Linked DNA regions of Homo sapiens. The protein of the gene in region 1 purifies or fractionates together with the protein of each later gene. This does not show direct contact. Each region holds a gene or a part of one and is shown in the gene's direction. Other genes may lie near its edges.

Region 1 (3,065 bases):
AGTTTTTGAGACAGGGCCTAACTCTGTTACCCAGACCGGAGGGCAGTGGCTCAATCTCAGCTCACTGCAACCTCAAACTCTTGGGCTCAAGTAATCCTCCCACCTCCGCCTTCTGAGAAGCTGAGGCCACCAGGCACAAGCCACCATGTCTGGCTAATGTTTTTTTTTTTTTTTTTTTCAGACGGAGTCTCGCTCTGTCGCCCATGCTGGAGTGCAGTGATGCGATCTCGGCTCACTGCAAGCTCTGCCTCCCGGGTTCACTCCATTCTTCTGCCTCAGCCTCCCGAGTGGCTGGGACTACAGGCGCATGCCGCCATGCCCGGCTAATTTTTTTTTTTTTTTTTTTAGTAGAGACGGGGTTTCACTGTGTTAGCCAGGATGGTCTCGATCTCCTGACCTCGTGATCCACCCACCTCGGCCTTCCAAAGTGCTGGGATTACAGTTGTGAGCCACCACGCCCGGCCATGCCTGGCTAATTTTTAAATTTTGTGTAGAGACAGGGTCTCGCCATGTTGCCCAGGCTAGTCTCAAAATCCTGGGCTCAATCGATCCTCCCGCCTCGGCCTCCCAAAGTGCTGGGATTACAGGTGTGAGCCACCGTGCCCAGCCCACAGTCTTATAGTGAATGAGTTTGGATATAAATTGGGGAACAAAAGTCGTTTTGCTCCAGAAGGGCACAAAAACAAGGAGCGGAGGTGTCCAGTGTGTCAGAAGAAGCCCCAAAGTGCACCATGTTCACACATAAAGCAGAGGTAGGTTCTAGGCTCTGCTAAACATAAAGGAGCTTCTCCCCTTGGAGGGTGTTTGCTGGGGCTTGAGCAAGTTATTAGGGACCCAGGACAGCTCCCCTTGTGAGCAACAAACCTGTGCACTGCTGGACATTAGGGCCTCTGGGCTCTGGCCCCGTAAATGCAGGTGGTGCCTGTTTGATGATAACATCCCAGAAAGCCCGCAAATTTCCCACATGCCACCTGTTGAGACTGCTCTACTGCCTGCCTCCCACAGCTGCCCGGAGCTAAATTTCCAAGAGAACCTCTCACTCTTACCCCAGGGGTCCAGCCTCCCCCAGGAGCCAGGGTCATCGGCCCCCAGCCTCAATGCCCCTTTCTCCTCCAGGAAACCCTGGAGGACCTGGACAGAAACAAAGATGGCTATGTCCAGGTGGAGGAGTACATCGGTGAGTGGGCCCCAATTTCTTCTTGGGATGCCTGTCCTCTCTCAGGCATGGGCAGGGTTGGTGGGGGTAGCCGGAGGTACATCACCCATCATCAGAGAACAGTGGCCCTCAGACATGGGGGCAGGGGCACTCACTGCTTGAGTTCATTTAGCCACCCAACATTTATTGAGCACCTACTCTATACCAGACACAAAAAGCATCTATTGAGCACCTGCTGTGTGTCACGCCCAGGATACACTTACTGAGCACCTACTGCATATGGGTGGTTGCGCCTACAGCAGACAATAACACAGACAAATCCCTTCTTGGGGGTCTGGAGTTTCTACAAAATCAAGGCTCAGGGGCTATGTTTAGTTGAGAATGGGGGTCAGGAAGCTGGTCTTGAACCTGCGCCTGCACAGCAAACACTGTTTCCTGTTACATGGGATGTTGGGGGATCCTCACAATACCCCCTGAGTTCTGAGTTCTCCCTGGGCCCCTGCCACTGTCCCTGCCCCTAGCGGGCAAAAAATTTAGTCAAGGAGAACGCTAACAAGGAATTTTTTTTTTTTTTTTTTTTTTTTGAGACAGTTTTTTTCTGTTGCTCAGGCTGGAGCGCGGTGGCGTGGTATCGGCTCTCTGCAACCTCCGCCTCCCGGGCTCAAGAGATTCTTCTGCCTCAGCCTCCTGAGTAGCTGGGATTACTGGTGCCTGCCACCACGCCTGGCTAATTTTTGTATTTTTAGTGGAGATGGGATTTCACCATGTTGGCCAGGCTGGTCTAGAACTCCCAACCTCAGGTGATCTGCTCATCTTGGCCTCCCAAAGTGGTGGGATTACAGGCGTGAGCAACCACGCCCGGCCAGGAATTTTTTTTTAAGTTTGAAAACATTGTTTATTCTTTTATTTTTTTCTGACCACATCCTACATGAGAAAACATTTTTCTTTCTTTCCTTCTCTCACTTTCTTTCTTTCTGTCACTCTTTCTTTCTATCTGTCTGTCTGTGTGTGTGTGTGTCTCTCTCTTTATTAAATAGAGATGGGTTCTCACTATATTGTCCAGGCTGGTCTAGAACTCCTGGGCTCAAGCAATCTTCCCACCTTGGCCTCCCAAAGAGCTGAGATTACAGGCATGAATCACCACACCTGGCTGAGAGAACATTTTTATATTTTTTTCTTAAGAGATGGGGTTGGGCCAGGCGCAGTGGCTCATACCTGTAATCCCAGCACTTTGGGAGGCTGAGATGGATGGATCATGAAGTCAGGAGTTCGAGACCAGCCTGGCCAAGATGGTGTACTAAAAATACAAAAATTAGCCGGGCCTGTTGGCAGGAGCCTGTAATCCCAGTTACTCTGGGGACTGAGGCAAGAGAATCTCTGGAACCCGGGAGGCAAAGGTTGCAGTGAGCTGTAATCGCGCCATTGCACTTCAGTCTGGGCAACAAGAGCGAAACTCCATCTTAAAAAAAAAAAAAAAAGATGGGGTCTTGCCCTGTCGCCCAGGCTGGAGTGCAGTGGGGTGATCTTGGCTCACTGCAGCCTTGACCTCCTGGGCTCAAGGGATCCTCCCACCTCAGCCTCCCAAGTAGCTGAGACTCCAGGCACAGTGCGGCCTCTGGAGATACTTCTGGTTGTCACTTCTAGAGGGGTGAGGATGCTACTGACGTCTCCTGGATAGAGCCCAGAGATGCTCCTTAGCATTCTCCGGTGCACAGGACAGGCCCTGACAACAAGGAGGTCACAGGCCCCAGATGCCAGCAGCTGTCCCCATCTCTTTTTTTTTTTTTTTGAGACAGAGTCTCGCTATTGTCGCCCAGGCTGGAGTGCAGTGGCATGATCTCGGCTCACTGCAACCTCCGCCTCCCAGGTTCAAGCAATTCTCTTGTTTCAGCCTCCTGAGTAGGTGGGA
Region 2 (3,500 bases), on another chromosome or scaffold:
AAAGGGCTGAAATCTTCACCTACTCATTAGGAGAAACATTTCTAGCCTAGGGTTGAGAGTGCAAGCTCTGGAGCCAGAGGGACTTGAGTTCCAACCCTGACTGTGCCGCCTATCATGGGTGCCTGGGGCACGTCCTGGACCCCAGAGTCTCAGTCTTCCCATCTGTAATGTGGCTTTTTTTTTTTTGATACGGAGTCTCACTCTGTTGCCCAGGCTGGAATGCAATGGTGCGATCTCAGCTCACTGCCACCTCCGCCTCCCAGATTCAAGCAATTCTCCTGCCTCAGCCTCCTGAGTAGCTGGGATTACAGGCTCCCACCATCACACCCGGCTAATTTTTTGTATTTTTAGTAGAGACAGGGTTTCTCCATGTTGCCCAGGCTGGTCTCGAACTCCTGACCTCACGTGATCCACCCATCTCGGCCTGCCAAAGTGGTGGGATTACAGGCATGAGCCACTGTGCCCAGCCTGAAGTGGCTTTTTAATAAGAGTGTGAGAATTTAACTGAGCGAACACGTGGACGGCTCTGGGCACAGCTCCTGGCGTGCAGCAAGCATGATAAACATAGCTACTGTTCGTGTAGTAGACGGAGCAGATGGAAAGCCCTCCTTGCTCCCAGACATGGCAGTTTGAGAAAAGTGTCATTTTTTTCTCACTTTATATGCACATATCTGTACATGTGCACGCATATAGAAATAGTTGACGTTCTGTCTCTCTCTTAATGTAATAGAAATGCAATCACTGTATATCCATTGGTCTTTGTCTGCTTTTTTCCTCCCCGTAACTAGGTGTGATAGCTGGGTCTCAGGTCAGCACGCAGAGACCTCGGGCTTTGTCACAGCATCTGGTTTCCCATGTCCGGTGGCTCCATAGCTGTTTAGGCTGTTCCCAGTTTTGTGCCATTTCTGATGGTGCCATGGCAGGCACCTGTCACCTCTGCATGGGATGGCTGGCTGAAGGCTCTGTTGAGCTTCTCCTGCTTCATGGGCCAAACTGAACCATCCCTTCTCCCAGCCTTCCCACCTCCAGGGCTGTACCTAGGTTGTTTCCTCTTCCAGCACTGATTCTGGTGTGGCACAGAAAGATGAAGGGAATTCCACAGGGCCCTAAATTGAGTTAGTTGCCTGGTCCTGGCCCAGGAGTTTCTCCTTCTGGTGGTCTGGGGTGGGGGCAGGGCTGCAGCGAGTGGGGGCTGCACTGTGGTCGGCATGGGAGTCTCTGTGAAGGCCGGGACATTCCAGGTGCTCAGCAGCCCTCAGCCCTGCACAGGGTCACGGGCCCTGTGCTTTTTGCAGGGGTTGGGGAAGGAGGGATGGTTTCAGGTGACCCTTCTCAGCCTGGGTCCCCCACCCCTCCCAGACTTTCTTCCTGCCCTCAAGCCTGGGGTCAGCAGGTTCCCAGGCCGGGGCGTTTACAGAGCCACAGACCGTGGCTCAAGGAGATGAGGAGAAGACGGGAGCTGAGGCTCTGGGATGGCGTCAGAGGCTGGGCTAGGCCATCCACCTTGCTGGGTTCAAATCTGGCTTCTCCACGCACCAGCTGTGACATAAGCAGTTGTCTTCACCTCCCCAAGCCTCAGTTTCCCCTCTGTAAAAACAGGGTGGGGGTACCTTCCTCACCATCAGAGGATAGTGTAAATACCTTTAGCATATAATAAGTGCTCAATATGTGCAGTGCACTCCGATTATTAGTTGGTGTTTGGAGAACTCAGTCCTCTGGGCTTGGGGCATTGATTACACATCCCAGCCATTCCACGGAGGGGACATGGGAATGGGTGAGACAGGGCCTCTCCTCTTGCATGCTGGCGGAGGGGGCAGGCACAAATTGGCAGCTTAATTCAGCGTGACAGGTGTGCAGATGCTGCGGGAGCCAGGGCAGGGCACCATCAGAACTGCTCGGGTCAGGGTGGAGATGGGAAAGGATGGAGGGAATAGGCCATGTCACATCTGGGCTTTGAAGGTAGGAGGCGCCATGGGGAGAAGCGGAGGAAGGGTACTCCAGGCAGAGGGCCCAGCACCAGCAAAGGCCTGGGGCAGGTGTGGGTACAGGAGATCCTGAGGGTTGGGGAGTTGGGTAGGCAAGGCAAGGATGTAGGCAGGTTTCCATTCTGTGACACTGCCTCTAGGGAGGGACCGAGGGGCAGATGGAGAGGCCACTCACTGTAGTTGTCCAGGCAAGAGCCAGGCAGTGATGATGGCCTGGATGGGTCAAAGTTGGAGAGGAGAGAAGTTGGGGAGCGAGAGCTCAGGGGAAGATGGCCCGCTTCCATCTTTCCCCTGCCATTCATTCCTCAAGACCTACTGAGAACTCTCTGCACAGCCCCACCCCTAGGGCCATGACATTCACCCCTCAGCCACAGGGACTCCCCCCAGCCATTTGGGCCCAAATGACTTTGCAAGCTCAGGGCTTCTCGCTGCCTGGGGATTCAGGGCTCTTGAAGAGAACACGGACGTCCTCACCCATCCTCCTGGAGTCCCCAGCAGGGGACCCTGTGTGGTACCTGAGTTTCCTCTCTTTGGGTCTGTTTCAGGAACTGGTGCTCCTATGTGGTGACCCGCACCATCTCATGCCATGTGCAGAATGGCACCTACCTTCAGCGAGTGCTGCAGAACTGCCCCTGGCCCATGAGCTGTCCGGGGAGCAGGTAAATGAGGTGGAGAAGGAACTGATGGCATTCCAGGTGGAGGCACAGTTTGGGCAAAGGCCTGGTTGGGGGACTGCATGGGGAGTGTGGGGGAAGACTGGACCCCAGGGTGGGCGGAGCAAAGGTAGCATCAGCCGACACCATTCTCAGCCTATCCCCTGTGCTGTTGAAGCACCCTGGAGGGCTTCCTGAGGGATGGATACACCATTTGCCTGCATTCCTTTACTCAGTGAGTATTCACGCTGGGCTCAGGCCAGCCCAGCCTGCAGGGTCTTCTTGTCCAGCTGGTATCCAATCTCCAATCCCTGTGGCAAGGTGGTGGGGGGATGGAAGGGCTGAATCCCAAAATGCAGGAGAGAGCCTCCAAAGGGACCTGGAGGCAGCAGAGGATCCTGGAAGCTCTAGGTTTGTCCCCATGGGTGTCCAGGGCAGTGGGAGAGGTCATGGAGGACCCTGTCTCAGCTGGGCCACCTGGGGACTCTTTCAGCTACAGAACTGTGGTGAGACCCACATACAAGGTGATGTACAAGATAGTGACCGCCCGTGAGTGGAGGTGCTGCCCTGGGCACTCAGGAGTGAGCTGCGAGGAAGGTAGGACTGCCCGGCCGGCTCCCGGAGCCCTGCGACAGCAGGCCAGGTGCCTCCCTGCAGGTGCATGGAGCCGTGAACTATTAAGAGAGTCATGCACAGTACCATGCCTGCTGGGGCCAGCTGCACAGAGCCTGGCTCAGACACAGTCAGTGCTTGTTGTCCCCCCTGCCCCCCACGGTGACCGCTTGCCTCTTGGGAGACTCTCAGGACCCCCAGAAGAATTTTATATATGCTGCATAGCTCACATTTTAAGTCATGCTATCCT

Evidence for each region. The genes of interacting proteins can lie anywhere in the genome.
Region 2: the proteins of RCN3 (region 1) and EMID1 purify together in Homo sapiens (co-immunoprecipitation; one large-scale study listed by IntAct). This does not show direct contact.

The regions. Positions count from the first base shown.
Region 1 is NC_000019.10:49,538,003-49,541,067, forward strand, and holds part of RCN3 (reticulocalbin-3 precursor), read left to right. Parts: intron 1-1,005; coding exon of another isoform or gene 1,006-1,116; coding exon 1,117-1,177; intron 1,178-3,065. UniProt on the Homo sapiens protein: Probable molecular chaperone assisting protein biosynthesis and transport in the endoplasmic reticulum.
Region 2 is NC_000022.11:29,212,396-29,215,895, forward strand, and holds part of EMID1 (EMI domain-containing protein 1 isoform 1 precursor), read left to right. Parts: intron 1-2,530; coding exon 2,531-2,644; intron 2,645-3,131; coding exon 3,132-3,235; intron 3,236-3,500.